2 linked regions of the Homo sapiens genome follow. The protein of the gene in region 1 purifies or fractionates together with the protein of each later gene. This does not show direct contact. Each region holds a gene or a part of one and is shown in the gene's direction. Other genes may lie near its edges.

What was found. The genes of interacting proteins can lie anywhere in the genome.
Region 2: the proteins of MYEOV (region 1) and PYGM purify together in Homo sapiens (affinity purification with mass spectrometry; one large-scale study listed by BioGRID and IntAct). This does not show direct contact.

What each region holds. Positions count from the first base shown.
Region 1 is NC_000011.10:69,292,504-69,296,254, forward strand, and holds the start of MYEOV (myeloma-overexpressed gene protein), read left to right. Parts: upstream 1-1,651; 5' UTR 1,652-2,073; exon of another isoform or gene 2,074-2,729; 5' UTR 2,730-2,851; coding exon 2,852-2,992; exon of another isoform or gene 2,993-3,088; coding exon 3,089-3,751.
Region 2 is NC_000011.10:64,753,455-64,757,105, reverse strand, and holds part of PYGM (glycogen phosphorylase, muscle form), read left to right. Parts: intron 1-1,547; coding exon 1,548-1,659; intron 1,660-1,750; coding exon 1,751-1,833; intron 1,834-2,269; coding exon 2,270-2,413; intron 2,414-2,760; coding exon 2,761-2,853; intron 2,854-3,080; coding exon 3,081-3,227; intron 3,228-3,423; coding exon 3,424-3,587; intron 3,588-3,651. UniProt on the Homo sapiens protein: Allosteric enzyme that catalyzes the rate-limiting step in glycogen catabolism, the phosphorolytic cleavage of glycogen to produce glucose-1-phosphate, and plays a central role in maintaining cellular and organismal glucose homeostasis.

The sequences.
Region 1 (3,751 bases):
GTGCCTGCCCTGAGCAGCCGGTAGGTGGCGCTGATGGGCTGGTGGTTGGGTTGGGGGAGGCTCGCATAGGGTCTCTGGAGGTCCCAGTAGGGCACTGGGGAGACCTCCCCTGATTCCCTGGAGGCAGAGCAGAGCTCTTGTCTTTGCAGGAGCTGCAGATTCTGCCTTGGGTATCTTAGAAGCTTTGTACAGGCATCTCCAGCTCAGTGGGAACCAAATGCCATCCTATCTCCCCACCTCACTGGTGTCACCATCTTCCTGGGAGCTGTCTGGATAACCCTCTCCCTGGCCCTCACCTTTAATTTGTCCCTGAGTCCCATCAGGGTCACCCTCCATCCCACTGCCATCTTCCTGGGAGCTGTCTGGATAACCCTCTCCCTGGCCCTCACCTTTAATTTGTCCCTGAGTCCTATCAATCAGGGTCACCCTCCATCCCACCACCATCTCCCACCTGAGTGAGAATGGGAACCTCCTCTCCCACTCCCTCCAATTCCCCTCCACTACAGCTGGGGGAGGCTTCTAAAATGCCAAATATAGCCCAGTTTCTGCAACTTGCAGGGTCCCCAGCCCTCGGGAGAAAGTCCAAACCCCTGACAAAGCCTGTGAAGCCCCCTGAGGCCCTGTGGGTCTGGGGCTAGCTCTGGGCTGCAGCCCTGTCTCTGGTCATAGTCCAGCATCCACCACGGTCCAGGTGCACTGAGCTGCCGGCCCTCTCTCCCCTCCGCTGGCTCCTTCCTCCTGACTGCCCGTCTTTCCCTGGCCTCTCTATGCTTCCCGCTGGCATTGACGACAGTGTCCTGGAGAGCTGGGCAGGGAGGGCTGCCTTGGGTTCCTACTGTGTGCTCCACCTAGTGCTGGTCTTGGCCCTTAGCAAGTGCTCAGTACACCCGTGTGGAATTGGGCGGTGAGGGTAAAGGGAGGAGGAGGGAAGGGCCAAGAGCTCCCTGTGCTCAATGAAGAGAGGGACTTGAGCAAGTACTCATTTTTAGTACTTCCCAAGATGTGTACAAGAGGCCTGGGGCCAGCAGAACTCCTTGCCCCTGCCCATCCCCCTCCAGTCTATGGGGTCCACCCCCAGCTGCCCAGCTGTGAGGCCTCCATGGCTCAGCTCCTCATCTATTAAGTGAGGACAGCAGTCGTCCCCCTCACAGCGAGGCCACGTGGGTTACATAACTTTTTCTTAGGGTGCCTGGCCTGCAAGAAACCCCTAAGAATGTTCTATATTCCTAGGCCCACTGTTATTCTTAATATTACCCAGGAAAGGGTGGTGAAGCGAGTAAATAAATGAATAGGTGAATGAATAAATGAATGAATGAATGGCACCCTAGCCCCACTGTCTTCTGGGTGGCTTCAGGATCCTTGAGGAGGTTGGCCGTGTAGGTTCCCCTCAGGTAGGACCTAGGTGAGCTGGGGAGTCTTAACTCACCCAGGGCAGGCCTTAAGGTTGGGCACACCCATGTGTGGGCTCTGCCCTGGCCTTAACCGAGAGAGGGAAATGTTGACGGGGAAGAAAGCCCTGCCCACCAGGCAGCCCCACCCACCTGGGCTAGCCCCACTCACAAGCAGCCCCACCCACCTGGGTTAGTCCCACCCACCAGGCAGCTCCGCCTACCTTGGCTATCCCCCTCTGAGTTCTTGCCTTGATTCTCCTGTTACTGTCCCGCGAACCCACATCCCTACAAAGCAGGAAAGTATGCTTGGGAGAGGCCAAGTGAGTGGGGAATCAGCCCAAAGCCAGGCGTCCAGGGTCTCCCTCACCTGAAGCTGACTTTTTCCCCACCTTGGACAGAGGGCGGGAGATGCCATCCCCACTGAACCCAGTGCTTTCACCAGCCATATTAGCTCCCACTCACCCCCCGTCGTGGAAGCCTCGGCCGTCACACCTGCAGGGCCGGGGCGTGCATGGCCTCAGGGATGGCCTGTTCAGCTGCTGGGTGACTCGGGTCCAGGTGCCTCACCACCTGCTGAGCTCTGTGTGATTTCTGGACACTTCTGCTCGTTGCCTTTGGGCTCAGTGAAGAGTCTGGAGTTTATCTGGAGTGAGGTGGCCGGTTCTTGGTGGGATCTGAGCAGGTAAGAAGCAGGGTCTTTCTTATGTTTTAAGGAAAGCCCTGTGGCTGCTGGGTGGGGGACCAGCTGGAGGGGCAGGAGGGCAGCAGGTGACTCATTACAAGGCTGGGGCCATCATCCTGTGAGAGCTGGGCATGACCAGTGCAGGTCAGTGGGGTTGAGGGTACAGACCAGTGGGACCCACAGACGGCTCGGGAGTGACCAAGCCTCTGCTGAGCTGCCCAGGTCCCCTCTGGTGGACACCTCCTACCCGGAGCCCCCCAAGGTGGTGCCAAAGCTAGACCACCATACAGCCAGAGGCCTCCAGGCCCTACCCACGACAGCCCAGCTGGCTTCTGCCCAGCCACCGTCACACACAGAGGGCAGCCGTCCCCATGGTCCCTAGAGGCGGTTGAGGACCACTGTGCCTGGAGTCATCTGTGGCTATAAACCAGGAGGAGAAGGCTGCCCACCCCCTGCCCCAGAGATGGGGAGGCTGGGGCCACCCGGTGGATTTGGGCAGGTCCCAGCTTCCAGGATCATGAGGTGAAAACGTGAAGGGACCCTAGAGGCCATGGGGACCCAGGCACAGAGCGGCGGCCTCTCATCCTCCCCATGGTCAAGGAGGTCAGTGCCTTCCCGGGGTGGATTACGGATGGTAGTATCTTCCTTCTCCTCAGAGTCCATTCAGGAGCAGGAAAGTTCATCTCAGACCCTAAATCCAGCCACGTCATGCCACGCTTAACACCTCTAACAACTTCCCCTGGCACTTAGGACAGCGTCTGGCTCCTTCCCTCGGCTCATGGCCCTCAGAATCTGCGTCACATACACCCCAGCTCTCCCGATAGGTCTCTGCACTCGCTGTTGCCTCTGCCTGGAACAGTCTCCCTCCTGGTGTCATTGTCTCCGTGGTGTGTCCTTCCTGACCTTCCACCTCCACCAGGTGCCGACACTTCCCTGACCCCAGTAACCTCTTCTCTTGGGTGGGTGAATGCCACCTGCTGATGTCTGATTTATTCATCGGTTTTCTTGTCTGTAGTCTGTCCCCCTTGGGGACAGGGACTCGTTGCTCATGTTCACCCGGCAGGCTGGACACTTCGTGGAGGGCTCCAAAGCCGGCAGATCCCGGGGCCGCCTCTGTCTCTCCCAGGCCCTGCGTGTTGCGGTGAGAGGAGCATTTGTGTCTCTGTGGTTTGCTGCTGGAGCTGGTGACCGGGAGAGAAACAAGGGAGACAAGGGTGCCCAGACAGGTGCGGGGCTCAGCCAGGAGGCAGAAGACGTGGACGTGTCCCGGGCCAGGAGGGTCACAGATGCACCACAAGGCACTCTGTGTGGCACTGGGAACAGGAATTCTGGGAGTCAGTCTGCAAGGGTGGTGGGCGTTGCTCACCTGGGAGAAGCCTTTAGAGTGGGCGTTGAGCAGGCCATTAGCTCGTGCCCTGAGGAGGTGCATGGGCGGCATGGGCTCTCCATGGAAATTATGTGGGCGCGAATGGATGTGGCTCTGCGCTCACCTGGGCGAGGACTTCTGGCCGGTGCCGGGGCACTCTGCATGACCCTGGCAGAATCGAGCTGCCCTGACTATGAAAGGGGAAGAAGAGCATGCCTGACCCTCCACCGGCACCCCACCCCTCACTGCTCCACCTGGGGCCTGCCTCTGCGGGTGGCTGGGTCCTGGCTGACTGTTGTGACTGTTGAGGCC
Region 2 (3,651 bases), 4.5 Mb from region 1:
AAAAAATACAAAAATTAGCCAGGCGTGATGGTGTGCGCCTGTAGTCCCAGCTACTCGGGTGGCTGAAGTGGGAGAACTGCTTGAGCCCAGGAGCCTGGGTGACAGAGCCAGACCTCGTCTCAAAAAAAAAATTTAAAAAATTAGCCAGGGTGCTGGTGCATGCCTGTAGTCCCAGCTACTCTGAGGCTTCAGTGGGAGGATCACTTGAGTCCAGGATTTAAAGGCTGCAGTGAGCTATGATTGTACAACTGCACTCCAGCCAGCCTGTGTGACAGAGTGAGACTGTTTCAAAAAGCAAAAAGACCAAAAACTGAAAACCTTAAAACCAAACCAGGTGTACAAATCCCAGTTTAGGCCGGGCGTGGTGACTTACACCTGTAATCTCAGCACTTTGGGAGGCCAAGGCAGGTGGATCACCTGAGGTCAGGAGTTCAAGACTAGCCTGACCAATATGGTGAAACCCAGTCTCTACTAAAAACACAAAAACATTAGCCGGGCATGGTGGCACGTGCCTGTAATCCCAGCCACTCAGGAGGCTGAAGCCAGAGAATCGCTTGAATCCAGGAGGTGGAGGTTACAGTGAGCCAAGATAGTGCCACTGCACTCCAGCCTGGGTAACAGAGTGAGGTCCCATCTCAAAAACAAACAAACAAAAAACAAATCCCAGTTCAGGCAATCTTCCTGCTGAAGCTTCAGGTCATCAGCCCCCAGATGGGCTGCAGATAAACCACTAGGCTTTCAGAACTGAGCATTTGTTTGTTGTCCTCCAGGTTAAGATGCAGTGGGGGCTGCTGGCAGTCCATGCCAGGTGCACGTGGCAACTGGCACAAGTGGCTGTGGCTGGAAGGCAGGAGACCTGGCTCCCTCTGGTGCTGCCAGCCTGGCTGTGTGCTCGGGGATGGGTCCCTTCCCTCTCTCTGTGTCAACTCCCACCCTGCACCAATCAGGGTGACTGAATGTGGGGAGGGAGGGCGATGCCCCTTAAAAGGGCTCGCTTAGAGGAGTGAATGTACCCCTGGCACCGTGGTAGCAGACAATTATTGATGTTTGCTAGTTATGGAAGGCGGGGCAGAATTAGTCACCGTGAATTAGCCCTGTGGTCAACCAGAGATGAGACCTTTGGATGGACTTGACCTCTGTGACCCCTTCAGCCTGGCCCTGGGTTCCCCCAGCCCTCTCATGAGTCCACAGTGTCCTCTAGCTTTTGCTCAGGCCAGGCTGGCCAGCCCAGCCCCCATTGCTGCAGAGTGGTCGCCAACAGAGCCCCTCCTGGGTTCCGGGCTTATCACCTGCCTCCTTCCATTTTCCTCACCACCGTCTGCCCAGGCAGGGCTTATGGGTGTCGGGGAGGTGTTGAGGGTGTCTTTGCTCTAGATGCGGTCCAGAGAGACTATGGGGTTTGCTCATGGTTACCCAGCTCATCGATGCTAGACAAGGACAAGAGCCTGGGTCTGCAGAGTGCAGGGATAAAGCCTTGAGTCCCAGCCCTGAGGGGAGGGAGGCAATTGCCAGGGCTGGCCAGCTCCTGACAGGATTGCCCCCCGCAGGTGGTACTGGCCATGCCCTACGATACGCCCGTGCCTGGCTATCGCAACAATGTTGTCAACACCATGCGCCTCTGGTCTGCCAAGGCTCCCAATGACTTCAACCTCAAGGACTGTGAGTTCATCCACTGGTAGCCAGCAACCCCAGCTTGCCCGCCGGCCACGCCCAGCGCAGGCCTTACCCTGTCCCCACTTTTGTCCCTCAGTCAATGTCGGTGGCTACATCCAGGCTGTGTTGGACCGAAACCTGGCGGAGAACATCTCTCGTGTCCTGTACCCCAATGATAATGTGCGTCACCCCCTGGGCTGGGGGCTGGAAGCCTGAGTCCTTGGCAGCAGGGGTCAGGGAGAGCTGGGGAAGGACACTTGCTGGTGCCCTAGTCACACCCAGGGCATATTGCTGGCCTTGTGCATCCTGTGCCCCCACCTCAAGTCTTTTGAGTGCAAGGACACCTGAGTCCTGAGGAAACTGGGTTAGCGAAGGGCACTTTGGAGGGGCTGTTCCCTGGCGACACCCACAACACACTCGGTTCTTGTACCCCTCTTCCTGACACTGTCTCTCGCCACTAGTTCTTGGTGGAGGAAAGGCCCCTGGGTCCCAGAGAGGGGGCCGGCTCAGGGCTCAGGGGTCCCGGTATGGGTGGGAGTCCCTCCTGGCCACACCCACCGCAGCTTTAGGCCATGCCCCCACCGCCCTGACTCACGCTGCCTCATGCTGTCCCCAGTTCTTCGAAGGGAAGGAGCTGCGGCTGAAGCAGGAGTATTTCGTGGTGGCTGCCACCCTCCAGGACATCATCCGTCGCTTCAAGTCTTCCAAGTTCGGCTGCCGTGATCCCGTGCGCACGAACTTCGATGCCTTCCCAGATAAGGTACCATGCGTGTGGAGGGCGACTCTGTGACCGGACAGTGTGTGCTAGGCCTCTCCCTCCAGCCTCGGCCTGCCTGCCCCATGTAATAGATAAGGGAGTGGAGACTGGGAGTGTGGGAGGGTCAGTTGTTCAGGATTCACAATCCACAGGCTCAGAACCTGGGCTTCCCTCCTCCTCCCGCCCCACTCCCCCCATTCCTCCCACCCCCATGAGCACCGGCCTGCCTCTGCCCACAGCCCAGTCACAGAACCGTGCTGGGCTCTCTGGGGGCCTCCAAATGGCATAGGGCAGTGACCATAGCATGGAATGTGGTTTGGAGCCCAGACTGACCCCTCCCCCTACCCCAGGTGGCCATCCAGCTCAATGACACCCACCCCTCCCTGGCCATCCCCGAGCTGATGAGGATCCTGGTGGACCTGGAACGGATGGACTGGGACAAGGTGGGCTTCAGGGCCCCTCTGCCCCATCTGATGCTCTCTGCCTCGGGGTTCCCTTCCCAGTTTGGGAGCGTGGGAGGATATGAATGGAGTGAAGGGATCAGAGCCTGAGGCCAGAGGGACCGTCCTGGAACCTGGCACTGCAGTGGGGGGGCCCACTGGGATGCGTAGTGTGTGAGGAGACCCACTGGGCTGAGGTCAGCATCCTGACTGCCCACCCCGTGTGCCAGGCGTGGGATGTGACAGTGAGGACCTGTGCCTACACCAACCACACGGTGCTGCCCGAGGCCCTGGAGCGCTGGCCGGTGCACCTCTTGGAGACGCTGCTGCCGCGGCACCTCCAGATCATCTACGAGATCAACCAGCGCTTCCTCAACGTGAGTCCGGAGGCTTGGGGGATGGTGTGGGGGTGAGGGGGGACACCCAGTCTGGGCCTGGGAGTCGGGGCGTCCAGCCAGGGCCCTGAGACTCTGGGGCAGTGGGGGCACTGGGCAGAGCTCTGGGGGTGTGGGGCTGGGGACTGGGGATGGGGGTTCCTGGGTCTGGTTCTAGCTCTGGGCTCTCTGGGCACAGCGGGTGGCGGCCGCATTCCCAGGGGACGTAGACCGGCTGCGGCGCATGTCGCTGGTGGAGGAGGGCGCAGTGAAGCGCATCAACATGGCACACCTGTGCATCGCGGGGTCGCACGCCGTCAACGGCGTGGCGCGCATCCACTCCGAGATCCTCAAGAAGACCATGTGAGCCCCGCTTTCCAGATCCCGCCCCTCTCTAGGCCCCACCCACTCCACGCCTCTGTCACAC